Regions from separate parts of the Homo sapiens genome. Here all the other regions are linked to region 1. The links come from fine-mapping of genetic effects on gene expression. A gene starts in region 1. Each other region holds a variant in brackets. All regions are shown on one strand. Distances are from middle to middle. Region 1 holds the start of TNIK (TRAF2 and NCK interacting kinase). Region 2 overlaps TNIK (TRAF2 and NCK interacting kinase). Region 3 overlaps TNIK (TRAF2 and NCK interacting kinase). Region 4 has its middle 25 kb from the start of TNIK.

Region 1 (6,067 bases):
GAAAATTTAGACTGGGTCCGGTCTGGAATCACTGGCTGAGAACAATAAGCCCCCAAAGTGAGAAGGATAAAGGCCTCTCTAGACAGGATCTGCTTTTAATGCTTTGAGCCCAGGGTTTACAAAAAGAGCATTGACTGTGTACATTAAAGAGCCACCGAAACAGCGAGGGACTGGTAAGTCTGCAGCAAATTCTCCCAGAAGCCACTGACCTTGGCTGCATTTCAGGGGTCAGGCATTCCCCAGGAGGGGCTCAGCAGGCAGACTTTACCAAGGGCTTAGGAACAAATGAGACATCTCATCTAGATGAGGCCACCTCTCCAAATGTGGCAAGGTGGAGATGATCTGCCCTCTGATTTGTGGAGATTACCTATGTGGCCTTTGGACCCACTCCAGCAGACACACCTCACCCACAAGACTGGTCAAAGACCCTGGCCCTCCAGGATATAACTGTCTCCACATCTGCATCTAAGTCTTCTAGCCAGCAGTTCCTGGTCCCCAAGCTAGCTGTTGCCCTCTCTGTTTCCACACCTCCCAGCAGGCAGAAAAACAGAAGCAGAGCCCTAAGCTGATAGCCCAGGCCACAAAGAGCAATTTCAGTGAATTGTGCAAAGATATATTTTCAAAATACAGATCACAAGAAAGCACATCCCAAGTGTGAACCGCAGTCGTCCGCCCAGTGGGCCCTCACCGGTTGCTCCCCTGCCTGCAGGCTCCGTGCTTGGTATCTCAGAAAACCTTCCCGAGGAAAAAGCCCATAAGGGACAAGTCCCGGCCCAACTTAAAATCACATCAGACTGCTTTCCAGTAGAGGAGCAAGGTCGAGATTCCGGCCCAGGGAAATCACCGCAAGCCCTGCGCATTGTTCAGACCCCTTCCCCCTTTGCCACTTCCCGCCCCCCACCCCGACCTCCGACCGATTCGCAGCACCCCACCCCCAGTCGGGGCCATCCATCCACCTGATTAACTCGCCGGCAGCAACTCCCAGCGTAGAAAGTAGGGCAAATGAACACACACAGTCGGTAAAGCAGGAAGCCACAGACCTGGCCAATGCACCCACCCTGTTACCAACCCCACCCCGCTGCGCAGGGGGCAGCCGGTTCTTGATGTGGCATTTCCACTCCAGGGAAATAGACAGCTTCCTGTAATAATGCATGAATGAGCTTTGGCTGCCCAACTATCAGAACAGCCCATTTCAAACGGCATCTCTGTTTCTTCTCAACTCCTTACTTGCCTTGCTGAAACCTCATCTCTTAGCCCAACAGATTAAGACGAAGAGAGAAAGACTTATTCAAAGAGATGTGGAGGAAAAGGTTTAATTAAGGAGACCAAAGAGAAAGTACCACTTTGATCACAAAGGTAGCACTTTAATATATCAGTGCAGATAGCGGCAATGTCAGAAGTACTAGGAATCCAGGTAAATGGCCCCAAGATTCAGCATCAATCTAACAATGTATTCCTCAGGAGGGCGTGTGAACTTCCATGCTTCATCCATCCTGGTGTCTCCCTGTAGAGAGCCACCATGAATTCCTTCTCATCCACCCTCCATACATCAAGTATATGCACTCGCTTTCTTTTTAATTTTATTTTTGGTTCGGGAGAGGAAGAAGCAGTCCTTAAATTGGTGTCCAATCCTTCTCAGACACCCGCTGCTGCCACCATCCCCACCCCTCACCCCCTTCCAGGCAGGCAGCATCTAATTAAAATGGCAAGAAAGCTCTGCCCCCTTCCCCAAAGGAGTGTGTTGGGATCGGGAGTTGGGGGTGGGGAAGCGTCGAAGCAGCACTTGGATTCCTGGTATTCTGATCTCAAAACAACAGCAAAATGGATTCTATATCAGTGATGTCTTAGTCAATACAATGAAACGGCGTCTGAGGTAATTCACGTGAAGGTAAACGCAAACCAGTGGGGCTGGGGGGAGGGAGGTGCTCTACAAAGGACTGGCCACAGACACGGGGAAAACACACACAGACACACACACACACACACTCGCACACACTCCAGGGAGTTCCGGTCTGATTGAGGAAAAGCAGAAAACACATCCCTTTCACCTGCTTAAGTTCAGCCATAAAACTGAAACGTTACAGCCACAAAGTCAGAAAGAACAGGCAGGGCTGAGTTAAAGCCATAAATAAAGGTGAGTGGCAGACTGGCATTTAAGGGAGCGCTGAGAGGGCGCCCGGGCGCGGGAGGTAGAAAAGGGGGAGGGGGAGGCAGTTGCCATCTACAAGACCAGCATAGCAATAACTGCCCCCTTGGAGCGGCAGGTTCGGCTTCGCGGGGACAGCCAGCCTCACAATGTCATCTTGCAGGTAGCTGGAAAACGTGAGGGGCCAGTGCCTTTATTCACGCTGGCATTCTTTTTGCAGAAGGGACAGTCGGGTCTCGCGCCTTGGCACCAGACAACTGCCCGGGGCGTGTACACACACACACACACACACACACACACGCACACACGCCTTTCATTTTAATGCTCTTACACCGGTATAAGATGAAACTGGCATAAGCTCTACGAGCCCTCGGGAGAGCCTAAGCCACGGCCAGAGGAAGACACGTACCGCACAGCCCCTGCCGTAGGGGCTCAGCCAGGAGCACCTCAGCAACCCCGAATCAAAACGGGAATCCAGGTTCCCTCCCCGACGCATTCTCCCGCTGCTGTCCCCCTGCCCCAGCCCCAGCCCCCAGTCCACGCACCGAGCCCATTCACCCTAACCCAAACCACTGGAAAGAAACCAGAAAACGTCCTGCTCACCCTCAGAGCCGAGAGATCTATTTCATCCAGGCTTCGAGCCGGGGAGTCGCTCGCCATGTCTACTTCTTCGCTGGAGAAATGGACCAAAACCACCCCGAAGCTTTTCCCTTGGAAATTCCACCTTGGTCTATTTCACTCGCGTCCTCATGCGGGTGTCGCGCCAGAGGCCCCGGGCCCAGCCTCCCCCGCCCACCCCAGCCCCACAGCGCCGGATCCCGATCCTCCGCGCGTCGGTCCGCCGGGTCCGGGAGCCCAGCCTGCGCGGATCTCCAAGCCCCGAGCAGCGGTGCGTGTGGGCTGAGCGCCCCGATCGGCTAAGGGCGCTGGGGCTGCGTGGGTGTATTTAAATGGGACATGCTTCTTTGCTTGTGCGTGGATGGCGGCTGCATTGGCTGTTATAATGAGACACATCAACTCCTCCACTCAGCAGGGGGAGGGTGGGGGTGGAGAACCACGCAGAACTGTCTATCACCGCTTCCTGGGAGGAGTGAAGGGGGAGTGGGGAGGCGGAGGAGGCGTGGTCTTGGACTGGGGAGAGGCCGCGCTTCCTGACCCGGTCCCTCTGCACCAGCGTGGAGGGGGGAGGGGCGCGCACCCTTTCCGCCCAGGCTTTTGCGGGCTCCTCGGGCCGAACCCGAAGGGGCTGTTCCTGAACCTTGACTTGTTATCATAGGGACCCAAGCTCTATTTTTGTGTGGCCAATTCGTGCACTGCAGCAAAATGGCCCTTCAGTCGCGTCTTGGGGTTTCTCCTCGGTTCAAATGCTCTCGCGCTGAGAAAAAGCCGGAGGAAAAAAAAGCGACACCCTCCCTCCCCCATTAATTATTTGTGGGGCCGGAGTAACGCGGGCTGGTGCAACCGGTGCATATAAGGACTTGTGTGCAAGGAAGGGGATCCGCCTCCAGGCGCGGAAAGAGTAGGGAAGAAGCGCACACGCACAGTGCACCCAGCTGGGCGCTTCGGCAGTTTGCAGCTGCGGCGGGGTCGGGTCCACCCGCGGTCCCCGGAATGCCGGACGGCTGATCCCGGGTGCTGGTCACTCGCCGATTCGGGGCTGGGAAGGTTTGCCAGAAGCGGGAAAGATGGGAGATCTGAGCGCTCTCTTGGCATCGCCACACCCAGGACTTGCTCGTGCCGCAATTCCCCACGGAAACAACCGAGTTGAAACGAGAAGCTTGCTCTCTGGGTGCAGTAGCTAGAAGGCTTCAGGTAACTCCAAAGCCAACACTGGGTGAGGCAACACACGCCGCCTCAGGACTCAGCATTTCTTTCAGGCTGCGTTTTCGTGGCAGACCTACCCAGATTGATGGAGAAAGTTTGGCTGGCGGATAAGAAGTAACGCGGAAGATGTGTACGTGAGAGCGATTTCACTTCACTCACTTTCTCATTTAAAGGTTGGATGTTTTACAGTGGTATACATGATTCTCCTTCTGTAATCAAGAGTGGGAAGTCGCTTCCCCCAATCCCCGCGCAGCCCTTCTTCTCCCGCCTTAGCCATGCAAAATACCTAGAAAGAAAACACTAAAACTGAACTTTTTTCCAAATACAGCAGTAGCTTTGAAAGCATTCTTTGCTCCTCTGTTAACAGCAGAATGTAATTCTGACCACTGCACTGATGGTTTCTTAATCATGCAGTATGAAGATCAGCTTCAAAATAAGTCTTATGAATGAATGAATGAAAGCCAGTGCAGTTAGTTCATCATGACTGCAGACATTAGAGGACTTTGAAACAACCTTTGGTGTACATTGTACTGTTTTTGTTACTGATATTGTATGTATTCATATGCATTGTGGATCATGCACCATGAAACTTGAAAATTGTTCCAACATCTCAATGGCCACAACAGTTTGGTAGCTTTTGCCTGTAAACGTTGTATGTAAACATTTGAACGTGTTATACTAAATTACTAAACTCATTTTTTACTAAAATCATCTGGTTCGACATAGTAAGTAACGTGCAGTAAGCCACCACGTCGAAATGAAAAAAAAAAAACAGATTATTTCCCATCATTGTCTTTGTTTTTTTCTCTTCTGTGTTCCTGTTTTTTTACCGTTCATCTAGACAACAGGTTAATGTATTGTCTCAGGGTTGAAAGAAGATAATTTAAGATCAAGTATTAAGATCTATAAACAACTATTTTTTTAAAACTGCAAACATAAGGAAATATGAGTTAAATATTTTTTCCATGGAAAGCCTTCGTTTTATACTCATGATTATATTTGAAACATCACAAACAGATCAACTTTTTTGACATTAGTGAGCTGTTTGGGCCACGAGGGTGCCAAGTTGGCATTCAGATTTAGTTTAGTTTTAGATGAGAAAGTTATAGATGCAGTATGATGCCAGGTGCTAAATGGAGGAGGGCTTCCTAAGAGCCTGAGAAGTTGATGAGACAGCCAGGGGAAGGCAGGGGTGTGGGCTGCAGGAAATACCATAAAAGGAGAGATTGCAGTATCAAAGGGACCTCCAACTGGTAAAGGAAGGTGAGAAGGAGGAACTTGAACTTTTTCCTTTTGGTCAAGTGTGTATCAAATTTCAGCTATTCCAGTATAAATTTCCTAATTTTTTCCTATGTCTCTGTATTGCCTGTACTATTTTACCACTTACTTAACATTTTTCTTTAAATCAACACTTTTTTCTTACACTTAATATAAAAGAAAACATAAATCACTACTCTAAATGGAAAGCCAACAACACTTGCTTTGAAAAAAAAAGGGGGGAGGAAACCATTAAAATAAATATAATGGAAAATAAAGAAGTATTATTAAATTCTAGCTAGCCATCAATTCCTGCTCTGGGCTTCTAGCCTAAGGCCTACTCTTAGTTTGTTAAAAGAGAGAATAGCAAATACCAGGAAAAACATTCAAGACTTGAGATTTTTTTCTTGATGTAATCTGAAGGATTAAGAGAACTGACACCATTTATGTGCAGTTTGAAAACCTGCCGAATAATACACTATGCTGTTTACATATGTATAAATATGTAGTAAACTATATAAAGCATGGATACAGGCAGTAAGGATACAGATTAACTTCAGGATAATGAGAAAAGAGGAAGAGGAAAAGGAGACTCCAACAATGATACCTAATTTTTTTGCTAAAGATTTCTGCCAGGCACGGTGGTGGCTCACACCTGTGATGCCAACATTTTGGGAGGACAGGTTGGGAGGATAGTTTGAGTCCAGGAGTTCGAGACCCGCCTGGGCAACTTGGTAGAACCCCATCTCTACAAAAAATACAAAAATTAGGTGGGCATAGTGGTACACCCCTGCAATCCCAGCTACTAGGGTGGCTGAGGTGGAAGAATTGCTTGAGTCC
Region 2 (6,067 bases), 170 kb before region 1:
GATGAGGATTATACAGAAGATTTGGCAACCTAAATGAACATGAGAGAAAGCCAATAGTATAACTAAAGGAAGGGGATCGCCAAAACCATTCACTTAGGGGAATTTCAAACTTTGGTGCTAAAGCTTCCAAATAATCAGCATCACCATTCACCAAGGAGCAGAGGAGTTCGGTCTTGCTGACTGCCAGTTAAGGGCTCTGAAAAAAGACAGTCTCCTTGGCAGCCGTTCCAACCTGGCTCCTGCCCCCTGTGAACCAAGGAAAAGTGGAAATCTAATTCCATGTAGCCTGGAAGAAACCTTACAGGTCCAGGGCTGTGGAGAGGTCGGGTGAGGAACAGGAGTTCCCACCATGCCACTAGGGTTCTGGAAGCCCTGGGAAGCTGCCAGTGGCACTGCAGCACCAGGAACTGGTTCCTAGAGAACTGCCTCAAATCAGACACACATAAGGAAGTCAGGCAGTGATGGCGCTGCATGGGAATACAAGCAGAACAATCTCCTCAGAACTACTTCGAGGGTACTGTCTCTCAGCCATCTTCCAGGTTTTCCACAACCCACAAAGGTCTTTCAGGTGGGTATAATTTGGGGTTACTTGTTAAGATGGAGTTACAGCACAGCTTCATTGGCAAAGACAATGGGATCTCATATCTAGAAACAAAACTTTCTGGGTTTCACCATTTGCCCGTTATCCCCTGAGAAACATCAGCATCACCTGTTAACTTGCTTGGGAATGCAAATTCTCAGACCCAACCGAGACCTATGAATCTGAAACTCTGGAGGGGGGCGGCAGGGAGGAGGGCAGGAATTTGTGTCTTAGCCCCTCATTGTTAAGATTCTGATGCACACTAAAATTTGAGAACCATTGAGCATTCTAGAGCAACACAATTTCATGAAAAAATAGCTTTGGAAACAGCATCTGGATATTAGGCAAAAATATGTGCCTGAATAGAAGAAACACACTCCGTTCATAGTAGGGTTCTATTCCCCAATTTTTTAATTTAGTAGTTCTTTGTGAAAAATGTCCTCTCACATGCAGCATTTTAAAATGAGAAATCTGGGGCCTTCTCAACCAACTTCACACCCGCTTTCCAGGGCAGCTCAAAACAAATTACTGATAAATCAACATGGGGCACTCTGAATCATCAGTCCGTCTTTAGAACTCCCCACATGGTCAGCTGAGGCATTCCATTGAGAATGCATCATGTCTTGACTTCTCTCTCTGGCCAATCCTGCCGTCATTGCATTTCTTAATAAACCTCCTGCATGCTAAAAAAAAAATAAAAAATAAAATCAAATGAGCAATTTATTGCAAATAGCCAGTCCCAAAGAAATCCTTTTGCCTTTGTTGTTTCCCTCAAAATTGCACATTATTTAAGGGGCCTGTCTTTTACACATTTTTATTAGCACCTAGAGCAATACAAATCCTCCACAAACTCTAGCAAATATGTATTAATACAGTAATAAGTAATTCTAAGAGCAAGCACTCAAATTAGTAAGGTCTGGTTTCCTGTAGATTACTAAAGCAGGGAAGGAGTAAGGGGGAGAACTCAGAGAAAGCGTGCGCTGACTAAAAGACAGAAAGGAAGCAGAAAATTTATTCTGAGCAGATGCCAAGACTTTGCCACATGCTTACAGTAAGAGAAATGGAGAGCAGAGAAAATTATTTTTAAAACCTTCTTTCCTTGAGAACTAAGTTATCATAGCCCTGCTTTAAGATATTAGGTAAATACTTTTTCAATGCAAGACATAGGTGGACCCAGAATATTAGCAAGAAATGTGCCTTAAATTATTTAAAGGATACAGACTATTTATTTTCCATGGACAGGAATCATCTGTCTTCATTCATAAAATTCAAGCTGATAATTTTTTGATAAAACTGTTTTCTTTATAAATTGTTAATAAATAAATAAATTGTTGATAATGTATCATTTCTACCCAAGACTGGAACAAACACATCAGCCACTTAAATTCCTCAGCAATACTTAGGCTGCTGAATTTGTTATCAGTGGTAATATATGTTAGCTTGCCTGACTTTAACTGCATCTCCTCAAAGAAAAACGTAGATGAGAAAGTAAAAGTGTAGAGGTGGTGTGGTAGAGTGGAAACTGATGAGCTTTTCCGAAGTAGAGCTGGATCCTAATGCCAGCAGCTATATTGTTATGACTAAGTTAATTGACACTCAGGACTGTTTTCTCACCTATACAGTGAAGGCTGTGGCACAGTTTAAATGTGTTCATGTGTGTACAGTGCCTGTAAGATGATAAACACCAAATCAGTATTATTATTATTAAGAGGCACCCATTTTCATTTTAAATCAATTTATTAGATGTTAATAAAATTAACCCCTATTCCTCCATTCTGCCTTCCATTATTTGGCAGATAAGAAAGCTCTGGCCCAATTGTTCTCAACTCTGGCTGTATATTACAATCACTTGAAAGTTCTTGTGTGTTTTTTTAACTGCCATCTCGCCACAGAACAACTGGATCAGTGTCTGGGGCAGGCCCCAGGCCTTGGTGATTCTGATGTAGTCGGAGAGTTGAGAAATACTATTCCAAATGGATTCTTTACCAAAATCACTTCGGGGCAAATTGGCTATTCTGGAATTTGATCATTTGATGGTTTGGCCTGCTCATCCTGAAGGATCAGGAGGATACAGCCTTATCCTATCTTAGC[A/C]TTCTTGGGAGATGTCTAGTACACCCTATGGCAAAATAAATACTATTCCATATTTCCTGGTTAGCCTTTGCTGGGGAGAGAGGGGAGAGGGGTATATGTCTGATGATGAGCCATTGAAGGAGAACATCTGAATTAACTAAAGATGGTGGAAGAGACAAAAGATTAGGTTAGCTATTATACTTTAAAAACTTCTCCTTCTCCTCCTTCTTCATCCACCACTGTAACAGATATCTGAGGAGTCCCTACTATAGTACTTAGAAAACTAACTGAAAATAGGACAATTCATGAATGCCCTGACTCGTTACATGGAAATTCAATAGGGAAGGATCTATTCAGGTATCTCTGGAAGAAGAAGGTCTTCCCATACTTCTCCACAATTTAAGTCATTTTTCATAGTCTAAGAATATAAGAGTATATATTGTACAGCCTGGGCAACATGGTGAAACGCCATCTCTACTAAAAATACAAAAATTAGCTGGGTGTGTTGATGCACACCTGTAATCTCAGCTACTGGGGAAGCTGAGGCACAAGAATCACTTGAACCCAGGATGCAGAGGTTGCAGTGAACTGAGATTATGCCCCTGCACTCCAGCTTGGGCAACAGAGCAAGACTCTGTCTCAAGAAAACAAACAAACAAGAAGTAGACATTGTAAATTGAAACATAAAACTTTAGAGGCAGAAATGTCACCTTGGAGAGCAAACAGATATTTAATATTTGTTCTCAATCAACATTACCTGATACCAGTTACCAGCCAGGGTTATGCAAGGTACTTCTATTTACACAATCTCATTTATGACACAATGTTGTAGTTTGAAGAGCTCTGTGTGCTGTTATAGTCAGGGAGTCCTCTTGTAATGATCAATTGCTACAGCAATTTAAACCTTCTTTAACTTAGGTTTATGATGCTAGAATTTTACTTTTTGTATTCATATCTGTTTTTATGGCGTACTGTTGGTAAGATGGTTTATATGATGCCAAGTCTTTGGTCAGAAAAGATGCTGCTTTCACAATGTTGTTCTCATAGAAAAACATAAATCACTTTGTGGTATTGTTTCCAAGAACATGCTAAGGCAAGTAGGGGTTTTCCCTACAGTCCTCAGGGCAAGTTCAAGATTATTCTGGGTATTATATGCTGCTGCAAATATTTCTTCCCATAGGCCAACTGAAAAACTCAAAACAAAACAAAAACAGAAACAACAAAAAAAACCCTCAAAATTGAACAAAAATTCTCATTTTCATTGTTAAGAAAATTTTCAACTATTAGTTATGTTGTCAAGTCCTATTTTTATCATTGATTCTTTTCAAATTCAATATATCTAAAATGTGGACTCAGATGTATCTAATCAACTATTTTTGCAGCTTTTCCTTTGCTTTTAATGCAAACTCTAGAATAAGAACATTTAAGAAGGTCACCCCAGCTGTGCACAACCTGAATCCAACAGGATTCCAACAGGATACTTGGCTTTAACTTAGAATGTTGGCTTTAACTTGGAGTAATGGCATGGAAGTCTCCTAACAATTTCCACTATGTGTTATGAATAATCTAGAACTTTACTGGAGATTTTACTCTATTTTACAGTGATATGGCTTTAAAAGACTATAAGTTTTGATTCCAAACAAATCTAGTGCAATAGCAGGTCAACTAAGGTCTTGAATTTCATTTAGTATTTTATTCGAGATCAGTATTTACAGTACTGACAAAACTATTTAAGATCATCAAAGTCAGTGAACTCCTTCCTTTACATTTATTTGATATATAAAGGGCCAAATTGTTCAAATGATGCTTGAAGTGAATGGTAGAACCAGGCTAGTCATTTCAAAACAGGATGCTGCTATAAAGACACATGCACACGTATGTTTATTGCGGCATTATTCACAATAGCAAAGACTTGGAACCAACCCAAATGTCCAACAATGATAGTCTGGATCAAGAAAATGTGGCACATATACGCCATGGAATACTATGCAGCCATAAAAAATGATGAGTTCATGTCCTTTGTAGGGACATGGATGAAATTGGAAACCATCATTCTCAGTAAACTATTGCAAGAACAAAAAACCAAACACCACATATTCTCACTCATAGGTGGGAATTGAACAATGAGATCACATGGACACAGGAAGGGGAATATCACACTCTGGGGACTGTGGTGGGGAGGGGGGAGGGGGGAGGGATAGCATTGGGAGATATACCTAATGCTAGATGACGAGTTAGTGGGTGCAGCGCACCAGCATGGCACATGTATACATATGTAACTAACCTGCACAATGTGCACATGTACCCTAAAACTTAAAGTATAATTTAAAAAAAAAAAAAAAGAAAATATTTGGGTGGAATGATCAGTTGAACAATCAATTAAAAGTCTGACCCACAGAAACGAACTTTCCAGATGATCCCAGATTTCCAAGGAATACATTGGTGTTGTACTATCCACCATAAGGGCTGGTGGCATGAGGAACATTCAGGAGCCACGGACAACAAATTATGCTGCTTCAAGAAGTCAATGGCTGGCCGAGTGCGGTGGCTCACGCCTGTAATCCCAGCATTTTGGGAGGCTGGGGAGGGCAGATCACAAGGTCAGGAGATCAAGACCATCCTGGCTAACATGGTAAAACCCCGTCTCTACTAAAAATACAAAAAATTAGCCTGGTGTGGTGGTGTGTGCCTGTAGTCCCAGCTACTTGAGAGGCTGAGGCAGGAGAATTACTTGAACGTGGGAGGTGGAGGTTGCAGTGAGCTGAGATTGCACCACTGCACTCCAGCGTGGATGACAGAGCAAGACTCCATCTCAAAAAAAAAAAAAAAAGTCAATGGCTGGCAGATTTGAAGCACTAACAATATTTGGCAGTGTTTCTTGAAATAAACATTTATCTATTTGGAGAAGTAGAATGAAATGAAATCTTTTTGAAAAAAAACATTTAAAAAATTAAATTTGAATTTGACTCATAGGGATTGATCACAATTGAAGAATTTGACCTGCAGGGACGAATTGTTCAACTGATCCAATAATTTAAATTATAATGTATATGTTCTCATTCTAAGCACACTTCCGAGAGCAGCAGAAGCAGTTCAAGAGGCATAAGGGAAGCTTCACAAATAGCTCATTAGCTCAAGAAGTAGATGAAGTGGGGGTAAGAATGAAAAAATGGTGAATGTCCCAAATTGGAAGTTAGAACACCTGGTTCTGCAAAGACTAATTGTGTGTCCTGCCTCTAAAGTAGATATTCAACCTCTCTTGGCCTTTGAAAGAACCTGTAAAAAGAGAATATGAGAATTATGTTCTCTAAGATTCTATCATACCTTTAAAAGGCTATGGTTCTAAGTTAAATTGGAGTTTGGTTTTAATAAGGTCTTAAAAACTCTTCATCTTTCCAGTTAAAAATGTTCAGTCTC
Region 3 (6,067 bases), 210 kb before region 1:
AGGGTGCAGCTTCAGATAGAGGGAAAGGAGCTATGTGTGAGTGAGGGAGGAAGACGAGTGTGCTGCAGGAGAGGGTGAGAAAGGTTGGATTGTTCTGCCTTATTCCCTGAGCCTAATTTGCTTAGATAGAATCCCAAAGCCATTCTCAAGTCAAAGAAAAAGATACACCTTTGAGACAACAGTGGAAACTAAGATGGCTCCACAACCATGAGTAATAAATTAGATCCCACTGACACTTGGGTAGAGAACCAGATAAAAAAAAAAAAATGCCTTTCTATTCATACTTCAAAACAAAACAGATTCTAATCACCTCAGCAAAAATAGGAGGGCTGGAAATAATAGATAGTCTGTAAGATTTGTAGCTGGTAAATGAAAAATTATTATTAATAGCTAATATCTACTATGTCAGGTTCTGTTATAAGCATTTTACACACATTAACTCATCACAGCCCATTATGCTGTTACCCTCATTTTACAGATAAGGAAACGCACAAAGAAGTTAGATGACTTGTTGAAAGTATCTATTATTTAACATAGGCAGCATCTCATTTGACTTCTGCATTTTCTTTATTGCTTCCTTTTAGCAAACAAAAAAAATATTTCTAAGAGCTTTCATTAGATTGAAAATATTTTCAGAGTTCACTTACAATCTTAGTCTTTCTAGCACTAGTTTTTCCCTCAAGATCTTGAGTTTTCAGCTATTATTTCTCAAAATGGAGTTTTCAGAAGGCAGGCGGTGACTTCAGTCTAGGACATACAAGGTTTGCAGGAGGCTGGCCGCTTGAGAAGTTGATATTATGATGCGCAGATGGCCAAAAGTTCCACAGAGCAACCAACTCAGACTGGGCTGAACAGAAATGGTAGCAAAAGTAGGACTTTAATTCAGTCCTAAAAGATCAGAAGAATAAGACTGGGGGGAAGACAAGGAAGGACATTTCAAGCAACAAGTAAAGGCACTGGCCAATGTATGAGGAAGGGCTTAAGTCTGTGTATGGCTATGACATCACATGTGTGTAGAAAATAGCAGGATATGCAATTGGAGAAGACAAAGTCCCAATGAAGAACAGCTTCCTGTGTCACGTAAGGAGTACGATGTTAAAGAGTTTACACTTGGGAGTTACAAGATCAGACTGGATTCCAGAAAGGTCACCCTGTCACCATCTTCCCCACTCCTTGCCCACCTTCCTACCCGCTACCACTCAGATCCAGGATTGCAGTTCATCTGTCCTCTACCAAGATTTGGAGATGATTAATCCAGTCAGGATCTGAAACAAAGGCTGGCAGTGAAAAGAGAATAGATCCAAAGAATAAATAAGTAGAATCAACAGGACATGTAGATGGTGTTTTGGAGAATTGAAAGAGAAACAGAAGTCCTCCAGGAAGATAACATCTCTGGCTTGTACAATCTAGGTGGGTAAGAGTGCCATTCTTTGAGACAGAAGACTCGGGAAAACATGAAGAAGGCAGGAAGTGACTTCAGTCAAGGACATAACAAGGTTTTCGGGGGCCGGGTAGACATCCAGACAGATGTGTCCATTAGTCCAGTGGAGAAGACTGGGCTTCAGGAGGTCAAGTCAGTCTACAGAGACAGAAGGACTTGCAATGAACCCCAAGAAAAAACAACCAGCGGGTGGGAAAAAAGAAAGCAGCAATATGACTGCAAATCAAGGAAAGAGAAAGTTTCAGGAAGGAGGATGTGATGAGTTTCAAAAAGGAGGGTATGGTCAGAGCCAGTGCTACAGAAGACCAAGTGAAATAAAGACTAAAAAGAGCTCATTCAATCTGGCAATTATGAAGCCCCTGGGACCTTACACAGCAATGCAGGGACAGACATCAGTTTGTATAGAGTGAAGGAAAAAATGGGAGGTGACTATGTGGAGGCAAAGAGGGTAGAAAAAAGTTGCTTGGTCTGAAAAGAGATGAAACTAGTCCTGAGGTCTCGCTGAAGATGACTGCAGGCTGGGAGGAAAGGGGCAATTCTGGGCAAGGGAGGAGACAACAGAAACAGCAGGAGGAGTCCTCTCACACAGAGGGAAAAGCTTTACATTGAGTTAGGATGAAAGAAGGTAAGAATGTGGGAAGAAGATGAGTTTGAGAAGAAAGGCAGAGGGAGACCTGTGGGATATTTACCCAATAAGGGATACCTGTCCAATGGCTCCAGTTTTTCTAAAAGGCATAGAAGAAGGTCACCTGTGGAGAACAATGAAGGCAGGGGCAGCGGAAGGGAGGAGAGGAGAGTGGTGGAGATTGGGAGCAACTATTCCAGGGAAAACAGGAGAAGGAACTGAGCAGGTACATACACAGTTGATTATTAAGCAGTGCTGAGTTGAGCTGTGCAGCCCAAATGCAGAAAAATAAACAGCTAGACTGACCTTAGGGAAGGGGTCTGCAAGGTGGATATTATGGAAGAACAAAGGATAAAGGAGATAGTACATGTTGGCTAAAAATGATTAAACTAAGAAATCATGAGGCCCAAGGCTGGAGAGACAAGTTATTAAAGTTTCATGGGGACTGAGAGACTGACAAAAGACCCGAGGGCTTAGTCAACATCAAAGAACAGGTGTGTAGGGTGTGAGGGAGTACAGGCTGGAAGCATCAAAGGCTGTGGTCTAAGATTGGGATGCTGTACATTTAAGATTTTAAAAGCAAAACAGACCTGGGTCATAAAAAGTCCAGGTTGTGAATAATAAGAGTGGGGTGTCATTCCAGGTAATAGCAATATAACTATAGTATCAATATTATACCATTTTACAAGTGAGACAAGGACTAGATGACTTATTCAACATCACAGCTGGTTAATGGCAAGGCTAAAGTTTCAATCCAAGTCTTTGCTGCCAAGTCTTATTGACCTTGTCATACAAAATCATTTTACTTGGTACCTTTTTCTTTCAGCCTTTGAATAAGAAATAATAAAATGGTGATTTTGCTTTCAGACTAGGACGACGTTATAAATGAAAGAAAGCTATCAATCTGACTTAAAATGCAAGTGAAAGTAA[C/T]GGTTTTATTTTCAGAACTCTGGTTATTACCCATAGTGTAGGAGCTTATGAAATTCTGTTAAAGTGTATCTTTGCATACTGTTTTCTTATTATAGAAACATTAAAAGTAACTAGCTATTGAACATGGCAACAAAAATAGTTAAGAACCACTTTATCTCATAAAACATAAATTTCAGCCTCCAGTGGCATGTCTGCTATTATTTCATAATTCTGGGTCCCACTCCCTATTAAGTCCAAGGCTGTGTCAGGATGATTTAGGAAGATAAAGCAATGTTACACCACATATTTTCAACCCAGGTACCTTTAGGCATACATCCAAATGTGAATATCAGATCTGTACAAATGTAAATGGAGTTGTCATTTTCTTTGATTAAGAATCACTCAGGCTCTCCATCACCATTACTAGACAAGACAGAGTGGCCTGCTGCCAACTTAAGGGGGCTGGAGGGATGGGGCAGTGGTGTGGAAATGGCAAATTAGGGGCCTCCTGCAGTGAGTTACTGCTCACCAGTCCTGGGCAGCCCTTAGGACATTATACATTAAGACACATATTCAAATGGAATGATGGTGGTACACATCAGCATAATTCACCTCAAATAATTCATTACAAAAAGACAAATGAACAAATGTCAAATTTGCTGCCTATGATATTAGCTATTACTGTCTTGTACGATATATATTAAGTGAGGAGCCTGCAGGAAAGCATATACAGTTATTCCATAGCTATTTATTTCATCCACTCTTGAGGCAAGTAGCGTCTTTCCCTGTCAGTTGGAACCAATCCAACCCACCCAACCCAACCTACCTAGACTCCCTAACTGTTCCTAGCTATCCTGGTTTCTTACTGAGCTAGTAACTAATAGTTTGCTTTTACTGTATATCAACTTGTCAGGCTAAGGTTTTACATGATTACTATTTAATCCCCACATTGCCCATGTGAAGTAGGTGCTACTACCACCCCCATTATACTAATGAAGAGAGCAAAGCACAGTCCCAAAGTCAGCCAGCTGGTAAGGCCAAGCTCTTAGCGATGCCTGCATGCTTCTGCCTTTGTTACTCCGCCTTTCAAATTTCACCCAACTTCTGCTCTATAGCTTGATGGCACATGTTCAGGAAGAATTCCCATTTACTTCAGTCCATACTGATTACTCCCTTCTCAGAAGTAGCTCATCCATACCTGGATGGAAGCTTTGCTTTCTGGTAATGCCAGCACCCTCTAATTTTCATGGGACAGGCCTTGGAGAGACTGACCCAGTCTTGTTTGCCTGGGAAAATGGTGTTGATGGATGGACAGCTTCTTTGTGGTAGTGAGATTTGGGTTAAATAGCTCCAGTACCTTAAAAATTCCAAGATGTAACCTAAGCCCTAGTCCCCCAAAATATTCAGAAACAGGGATTCCTAGAAATCTAAATCATGCCCTTTAAAAATTTCGTGTCCAAACCTGATAGACTTAAAAAATTAGAAATGAAGAATATTAGAGACATTCATGTCCACTGATATTAACCCCTTCCATCCTACTTCTCTAAAGCCATGCAGCTAGCTCAGAGAAAAGTAGGAACTCCAACTCCTTCAGCTGTGGGAGGTGGGAACAACACAGGCCCTGTGGTCAGATACCTTCAGTTCTGTCACTCACTGGCTGTGTGACCATGAGGAAATCATTCAGATCTCTTTAGATCTCAGTTTCCACACTAAAATCAGAGAAATGATACTTAAGGCCGTTATAAGAACTAAAATAGCTAATGTGAAAGTTTTGTAAACCATATAGTGCTCTAAAAATGCTACAAACTTCCATTATTATTCTACATTTGGGATTTCTGACTTTCATGACAGAGATTTGTTTTTATCTTGCAATCCTCTGCTGCAACAATTATCAATTGATGGTGTCCCAGACCACTGTCAAAATACAGTGTACATTATTCAAAGACCCCAAATACCAAATGGTCACAAGCCTAGTGTGTTATTATGTCTGAAAGTGTTTGAGTGACCAAAGAATGACTGAAGCTCTCATCTAAACAGCAGAAGGAAAACCAGAATAACCCAACAAAAGGTATCATGTACACACATCAACTACCAGACAGGTTAAAGGTGGGCAACATCCTATGAGAGATGAGACTAAATTAAAGCACATGTTGGAACCTGCCTGTGGTCTGGGAAGAACAGCAGATACAGACAGCAGAGAACAGCAGGAACAGACAACAGAGACCGGGACACAGATATGAGAACTTCCTAAAGAAGGAAGAAGGGATGAGTCCATTAAAAGATGACAATTTAGAATGTCAAGAGTCCTCTGGTGTGTTCTAAAATGAGGCTGGCTACTTGTGTTGTTAGAGGCCTGAGATGATGTCTACATGTTTGGGTAATGATCTTGGATGATATGAACTGATAGCTAGGCCCAGAAGTAAGAAACAGGTACTGCCATAATAGTTATCAACCTTCCTGCCACAGTCTTGGGATGAGTTCCTCTGTCCTGGGCAAGTTGGCTGGGGCTGAAGCACAGAGCAAGGGCCATTGCAAGGTGCTCCTTATTAGGACATTTTTCATCTAACTTAGACCCACAGACTATGTGCACTTAGTTGGGGCCTAATTATCAAGAACCTGTATTCCACACATACACTATTTGATACTTAATATAAATAATGTACCCAATTTTATTTAGCAAAACTAGCAAAACTTGTACTCAAAATGAATGTTGTCTCTAGGCACTAATACCATTGATGTTTAAATCATTCTGAAATTACCTACATCACATCCCTTTGAATATAGAAAAATAATATGGCTCATCTTTGTTAAAAAGTATATTTAATTTTTTACATTTAATATCATTCTAAACGGGTAAGGAAGGTGAAAGATTGAGTTGGATAAAACTGTTAGAAAGTAAATATGATAACAGACCAAAAAGAAATTTTGTGGTTTGTGTATTTCATCACCAAAAGAAAGTAGCTCCCAAATTTATAGGGCAATTGCAACATTTTTGAAGGAAATACGTGCAATTCTCTAAGGTAAATGTTCATTTGCATAGATAAAATCTGGTATGCGTGTGTGTGTGTGTGTGCGTGTGTGTGTGTCATATC
Region 4 (6,067 bases), 25 kb after region 1:
TTTGCCTATTCTGAGCATTTCATATAAATAGAATCATATAATATGTGACCTTTTGTGACTGGCTTCTTTCACTTAACATTATGTTTTCAAGATCCATCCATGTCACAGCATGTATCAGTACTTCAATCCTTTTGTGGCTGAATAATATTCTATTGTACAGATTTATCACATTTTGTTTATCCATTAATCAGATGATGGACATTCGAGTTGTTTTTACTTTCTGCCTATTATGAATAACATTGCTATAAACATTTATGTTAAAAGTTTTTATATAAAGATATGTATACAATCTTCTTACTCAGAGTGGAATTGCTGGGTCATATGGGAACTTTAACTTTTTAAGAAACTGCCAACCTTTTTACTAAAGTGGCTGTACTGTTTTGCATTCCTACCAGCAATACATGAGGGTTCCAGTTTCCCCATATTCTTACCAACACTTGTTATCATCCATCTTTTTGATTATAGCCATTCGAGTGAATATGAAGTGGTATCACACTGTGGTTTTGATTTGCATTTCCCTAATGACTAATGATGTTGAGAGTGCCATCTAATTTTATATTATTGTTCTTTGTGTGAAAAGGACAATCCCTAAATTTTAGTGGATGCCAAATGAAGAATTGTCTAGATAAATGTTTCTCTCCTCTGTAATTCACATTCTAAACTTAATATAATATTTAAAATACTAATTTGCTTTTCTGTAGTAGCCAAAGGAAAGGCTTTGCTCCTGCTGCAGATTTGTGTGTGTGTGTGTGTGTGTGTTTGTGTGTGTGTGTGTGTGTGTGTGTGTGTGTGTGCTTGATGTGTTATTTGTTTTGTTTTTATATGGAGAAGGTTTTAAGTACAAAAGAAGTACGTACAGACACTGATGGTCTCTCAACCACCTGCCTCAGCCCACCTGACTTTAGAGCAACTTCAATGCACATTCCATACACTTCCTGTGCACACCTTGAGGGCACACTCCTGGCGCTTGTTTGCTTTTGGCCTCAGGGCTTTCTCCACAGCCATAGAAGGCTGCTCATCTGGATCCTAGAGCCCAAAAGTGCAAGAGAAAGAAGAGAGGAGGGTAGCTTTAATACTGACCCCCAAAGGGAACCTTCAGTCAATAAGGTTTAGAAGTTGATGGATAAACACTGTAGCCTCTCATCCCTTGATGGGACAATTCTGGAGCATGGTCAACTCAGTTCCTTAGCAATGCCCAGCAGACATAAGCCACAGTTGCTCACAGTGGAAACCCACTCCTTAAAAACCACTTTATTGGCTTTCCTCTTTTCTTTGTCTCAACTTCCCAGCTCCCACATTTCTGCTTCCTAGGATCACCTCAAAAATAAGCTACCCACTCAAAAGTTCTTATCTCAGTATCTGCTTTCAGGGAAACCCAAATTATGTAAAATTATGAAAATGAAAAATGGATAAATGAGTAAAGGCAGCATTAATTGATTGAAAATTTGCAAACAATTTACTTTAAAGAATCCCTTTTGCTATTTTTCCACCATGGACCTGATGTTTTAAAGATTTTTTCCTATGAAATAAATTGTATTTGTAAGATAATAATAAATGTTGTCTTAAGGTCAAAGACAATCTGCTTTTAATACTAGTGTTTTCTCCACCAAGATTATATTATTTTTGCCAAAAAGCAAAGAAGACTGGAGTTTTAACTAGTCTACTTAATATTTATGTGTGTGTGTTCCATTCGACTTGTTCAAAACAGTTCCCCAAGTCTGATTATTATACTGTATTATTTTTTAAATAGACACACAGCACATGGTGGGAACCCAGAGGCTGAGAATTCCATACTAGCAAGTTCTTCCCACGAAGGGTGTTTTGGGGACCAGCGATAGAGCGGTGCCAATCCCTAGGTCCTAGCTGTTGGCAGCTTTCAGAGCTTGTTTACACTCTCTTCTTTTTTGACTTGTGATATCCCAGTTTGGTTTGTAGACCTTGAACATTTCACAAGTCCCTTGCCTCTATCTTCTTTTTTTTTCTTTATAGACAGAGTCTTGCTCTGTTGCTCAGGCTGGGGTGCAGTGGTGTGATATAGTTCACTGTAAACTCAAACTCCTGGACTCAAGCAATCTTCCCACCTAAGCCTCCCAAGTACCTAGAACTAAAGGAGGTCACCACCACACCCAGCTAATTTTTTTGTTTGTTTGTTTTTGGTAGAGATAAAGTCTCACTGTGTTGCCTAGGCCGATCTTGAACTCTTGTCCTCAAGCAATTCTCCTGCCCTGGCCTCCTAAAGCCTTGGAATTACCGGTGTGAGCTACCGCACCCAGTCTCCTTCCTCTATCTTAAGTCAGCCATCATGCCACTTAACCCAGACTTGGCAGCTTTGTGTGGCCATCTCTCCACAGCTCCACAGACGTTTGTTATTCCCCAATCCGCTGTTCTGTCCTAATTGCCATCTTCTGCCAAATTGAGAAATAATGAGACTGGCTGAGGCAGGATAGAAGAGCAGTGGTATCAAGTTAGAAGTCCTGGGTTCTAGTTCCAGTTCTGCCCTTCCTCGTATGGAGACACTAGACAAAGCATAATCTACTTGAGCTCCGTCTTCTCATCTTTAATGTGGAGATAGCATGATCAATTTTGAATTCTCACAGGGTTTGAGAGATAAAAACTTCTTCAGAAACAATAAGGCAAGGAAGTTCAGTGTAGTGTTGTTTTTGAGATTGAAAAATTAGAACTGGACTTAAGTATTTAAATATGAGGGGCCAGTTAAATTATGACATAATCATTATAATCTTTGCAACCATTAAGAATTATGTTGGAGAATAGTTAAAGGTGTTGGAAATTAAGTGGAAAAAAACAAATTATAAAACACTTATGTGAAAGTAGAGATTACCAGGAGTGGGGTAGAGAAGGGCATGAGGAGT[T/C]ATTTAATGGATACAGAGTTTCTGTTTGATGAAAAAGTTCTGGAAATGAATAGTAGTGGTGGTTGTACAACATTGTGAATGTACTTAATGCCACAAAAAAAATTTTTTTTTTTTGAGACAGAGTCTTGCTCTGTTGACCAGCCTGGAGTGCAGTGGCACAAGCACAGCTCACTGCAGCTTCTTTCTCCTGGGCTCAAGCAATCCTCCCACCTCAGCCTCCCAAGTAACTGGGACTATCAGCACAAGCCCAGCTAATTTTTGTATTCTTTGTAGAGACAAGGTTTCACCATGTTGCCCAGGCTAGTCTCAAACTCCTGGGCCCAAGCAATCCCCCCACCTTGGCCCCCCAAAGCGCTGGCATTACAGGTATGAACCACCACACCCAGCCAGAGTTGTACATTTAGAAAAGGTTAAACTTGTAAATTTTATGTTATGTATATTTTATCACTATAAAACAAAAGGTAGCTGGAAGGTTGACGAAGGTAGTTCTTAATAAGGTGAAAAGAAAAAACAGTTCTCATGTGAAATCATGGAAATTTCTTGTAATTTATGACTATTCTAATTTTCATGGGCATATAATTAGATGAGCTATTAAATTATTTACTTGAAATTTTCGGCACAAAAATAAATGTGTTTGTATTTTAAAAACAATCTGTGTAGGGTGATCCTATTTTTAAAATTTATGTATATATATTATATATGCACATTATAAACATATACACATATATATGCAAACTACATGCATATCTGCTTTTTCTAAATTTTCTATGGTGAATATTTATTACTCCTACAACAAATGAAGTACCATATAAACCATAAGGAATTTTATTACTTATATGGTGGCTTTGGCCTGTCATAGTGTATAATATGCAACTGTTGCCAAAGGAATATGTCTCAGGTAATCTCCAATTGGTGGCTTACTTGAATTTGCAGGTGGAGACAACAGAATATGCAATGTTTGAAAAGTGATGGACTCTGTGGCTCATTTGAGGCCTTGAAGTAAGTCCATTATATTTGGAACATTATGTCTGTGAGTGGATAGTGCTGGGATAAAGGGCTCAGGATGAATCTGGAGAGGTAGGCAAGTAATAAAGAGACAAGTTGAGCACATTAGAGTTTGGACTTATCCTAAGGGCAACAGCAAACCACTAATGGGGTTTAAGCCAATGAAATCATTAGGTTTACACATTAAAAAGATTAAGGTGTTTGCCTCATGCTAAAGGCACCAGAGAGGAGCAAGACTGGAAGCGGAGAGGTTGATTATGAGGCTGTCATAGTCTCCCAGGCCATCTGGACAGGAGTGGTCACCAGAGGGATAAAGCCTGTGGATCTGAGACACATCTAAAAAGTAGAACTTTTGTGATGCTTAGTTCTGATTGGATATAGAGAAGAAGGGTAAGCACTATCTAGGATGCCTCGAGGTCTTAGCTTTGGGCAATGGAGAAGGGGCTGTGTCACCTACTAAGATACGAATCAAGTAGGAACTTGTTTGAGGGTGGAGGAAAGTAACAGGTTTATCTTGGAACCTGCCGAGTTTGGTGTCTGTGCAGTTGGAAATCCAGAAAAAGGAAAACTCAGAAGAGGTATCAGGAGCCAGTGGCATATAGAGGGTAACTGAAGCCATGAGAGTGGACAAGATTTCCCAGGAAGAGCGTGTAGAGAAGAGGTTTGTAGTCTTTCTTGGGAGTAAAGGGGTGATAATCTGATGAAGTCCATGAACCTTTCCTTCAGAAACATTCTGAAGGGGCTTGGTTGTTAAGCAAATGGAAGAAATCAGGACATAGTTGAGGGTTGTCATGAGGTCAAGAAAGATTGAGACTTAACTATGTTTAGATAGACAAGTAGTCAGGAAATGATTAGAGAAACAGAAGAGAGGAAGAATATTCAACGAGAAAACCAAACCCTTGAGAAATGACAAAGAGACTGGCTCCCTAAGACAGCAAAAGGCAAGAGTGTTAGGCAAAAGCAGGGGCAACTTTTTAAAGTCAGGAACAAGGAAGAAAAGCTAGAAGAGAACGCAGGTGAGCTTGTGGGTTGGAAGTTGAAGACTTTCTTATCAGATGACTTCTGTGGACTCAGTGAATAGGAGGTGAGGTCATCTAATGAGAGTCGGCAGAGGTCACAGGTCTGTGAAATGTCCACTGTAGAGATCAGATATGGAAAACACTATGAGATTTCTAGGCAGTAGAAGCCCAGTTAAACATGGGGACCAGGCATATATAACGACATAAATCTGGGTGATTTTTCTTCAGCAAATCTTGAGATCCTTGGTGAAAGTGAGAAGAATGCAATGGTTCAATTTTTTAAGGGCTATCAATTTGCCAAGGATTGTGAGTAAAAGATAGCAGGGCAAAGGAGATGAAGAGTCAAATGAGAACTGATCACAGAATGATGAACCAGGTATCAAAGCTGTCTGGAAATAAAATGAGGTCAGAAAGAGAATGATGAAAGGAGACAATGGAAATACCTAGGGATTAAAAATACCAAAGCATGCAGCCAGCCAACCTGTGTGCTCAGCAGTTCATTTGTTTTAAAGACTTTTATTTTTATTATTTTTTAAAATCACCAAGTGTCTTGATGCACCTATGTTGTAGTTTGATCATGAATTCCTGACCAGAACACTGAAGCTGAGGGAAGCCATTTGAAATCAAATTCCTTGTTCCAACCTAACAGCAAAGACTGTATAATCATTAATTTGCCTTTCAAATACAGGACCAGAATTAGATAGTAAAATATGTCTTGCATTCCCAAACTTAGGCTAATATCACTTGCACATGTAAAGGCTATGGACAAGGTATTAGATAATATTGGAGATTTATAAACCTTCTTATGTATATAATAATATTGTAGTTATGTAGGTTGATGTCCTTGTTTTTAAGAGATGCCTGTGAAGTGTGTGGAGGTGAACTACCAGCTTATCTGTGACTTATTTTCAAATGGTTATGGGAAAATGTATAACAAAGCAAATATGGCAAAATGCTAACAATTACTGATCAGAGTTAATGGTTCTCTACAAAGGAAGAGGGTTAATTTTACTTCCTGGGGAACATTGGCAACATTTGGAGACATTTCTGTCTGTCTCAAGTCAGGGGGAGGGTATGTGTATGCGTGCATGGGCATGCACTACTGGCATTTAGTGAGAAGCCAGGGGTGTTGCTTGTCATGGTTTGGCTCTGTCTCAACCCAAATCTCATCTC

What was found. PIP is the estimated chance that this variant, and not a neighbour inherited with it, causes the effect. A credible set is the group of variants that fine-mapping cannot tell apart.
Region 2: its variant is the best candidate, but not a certain one, in a credible set for the expression of TNIK in tibial artery (GTEx, PIP 0.64).
Region 3: its variant is the best candidate, but not a certain one, in a credible set for the expression of TNIK in whole blood (INTERVAL, PIP 0.65).
Region 4: its variant is the best candidate, but not a certain one, in a credible set for the expression of TNIK in whole blood (INTERVAL, PIP 0.87).

Annotation. Positions count from the first base shown.
Region 1 is chr3:171,457,258-171,463,324 of GRCh38, forward strand. It overlaps TNIK (TRAF2 and NCK interacting kinase), which reads right to left and starts at 3,148. Exons shown (of 33, transcript NM_015028.4): 1 at 2,750-3,148. The coding sequence starts at 2,806. It overlaps LOC124906303 (a long non-coding RNA gene), which reads right to left and starts at 914. Exons shown (of 2, transcript XR_007096168.1): 1 at 689-914. It overlaps LOC102724479 (a long non-coding RNA gene), which reads left to right and starts at 1,961. Exons shown (of 3, transcript NR_189068.1): 1 at 1,961-2,134. RefSeq lists a silencer at 2,778-2,837 and an enhancer at 3,849-4,349.
Region 2 is chr3:171,283,344-171,289,410 of GRCh38, forward strand. All of the region lies in intron 2 of TNIK (TRAF2 and NCK interacting kinase), which reads right to left. Among named protein-coding and RNA genes, the nearest start is that of TNIK, 170 kb to the right of the region's middle. RefSeq lists an enhancer at 2,003-2,062. The variant A/C (reference allele first, on the strand shown) is at 2,672.
Region 3 is chr3:171,246,033-171,252,099 of GRCh38, forward strand. The region is part of intron 2 of TNIK (TRAF2 and NCK interacting kinase); the gene reads right to left. Among named protein-coding and RNA genes, the nearest start is that of MIR569, 140 kb to the left of the region's middle. RefSeq lists an enhancer at 5,067-5,146. The variant C/T (reference allele first, on the strand shown) is at 2,997.
Region 4 is chr3:171,482,644-171,488,710 of GRCh38, forward strand. No RefSeq gene overlaps it. Among named protein-coding and RNA genes, the nearest start is that of TNIK, 25 kb to the left of the region's middle. RefSeq lists an enhancer at 5,820-6,067. The variant T/C (reference allele first, on the strand shown) is at 2,871.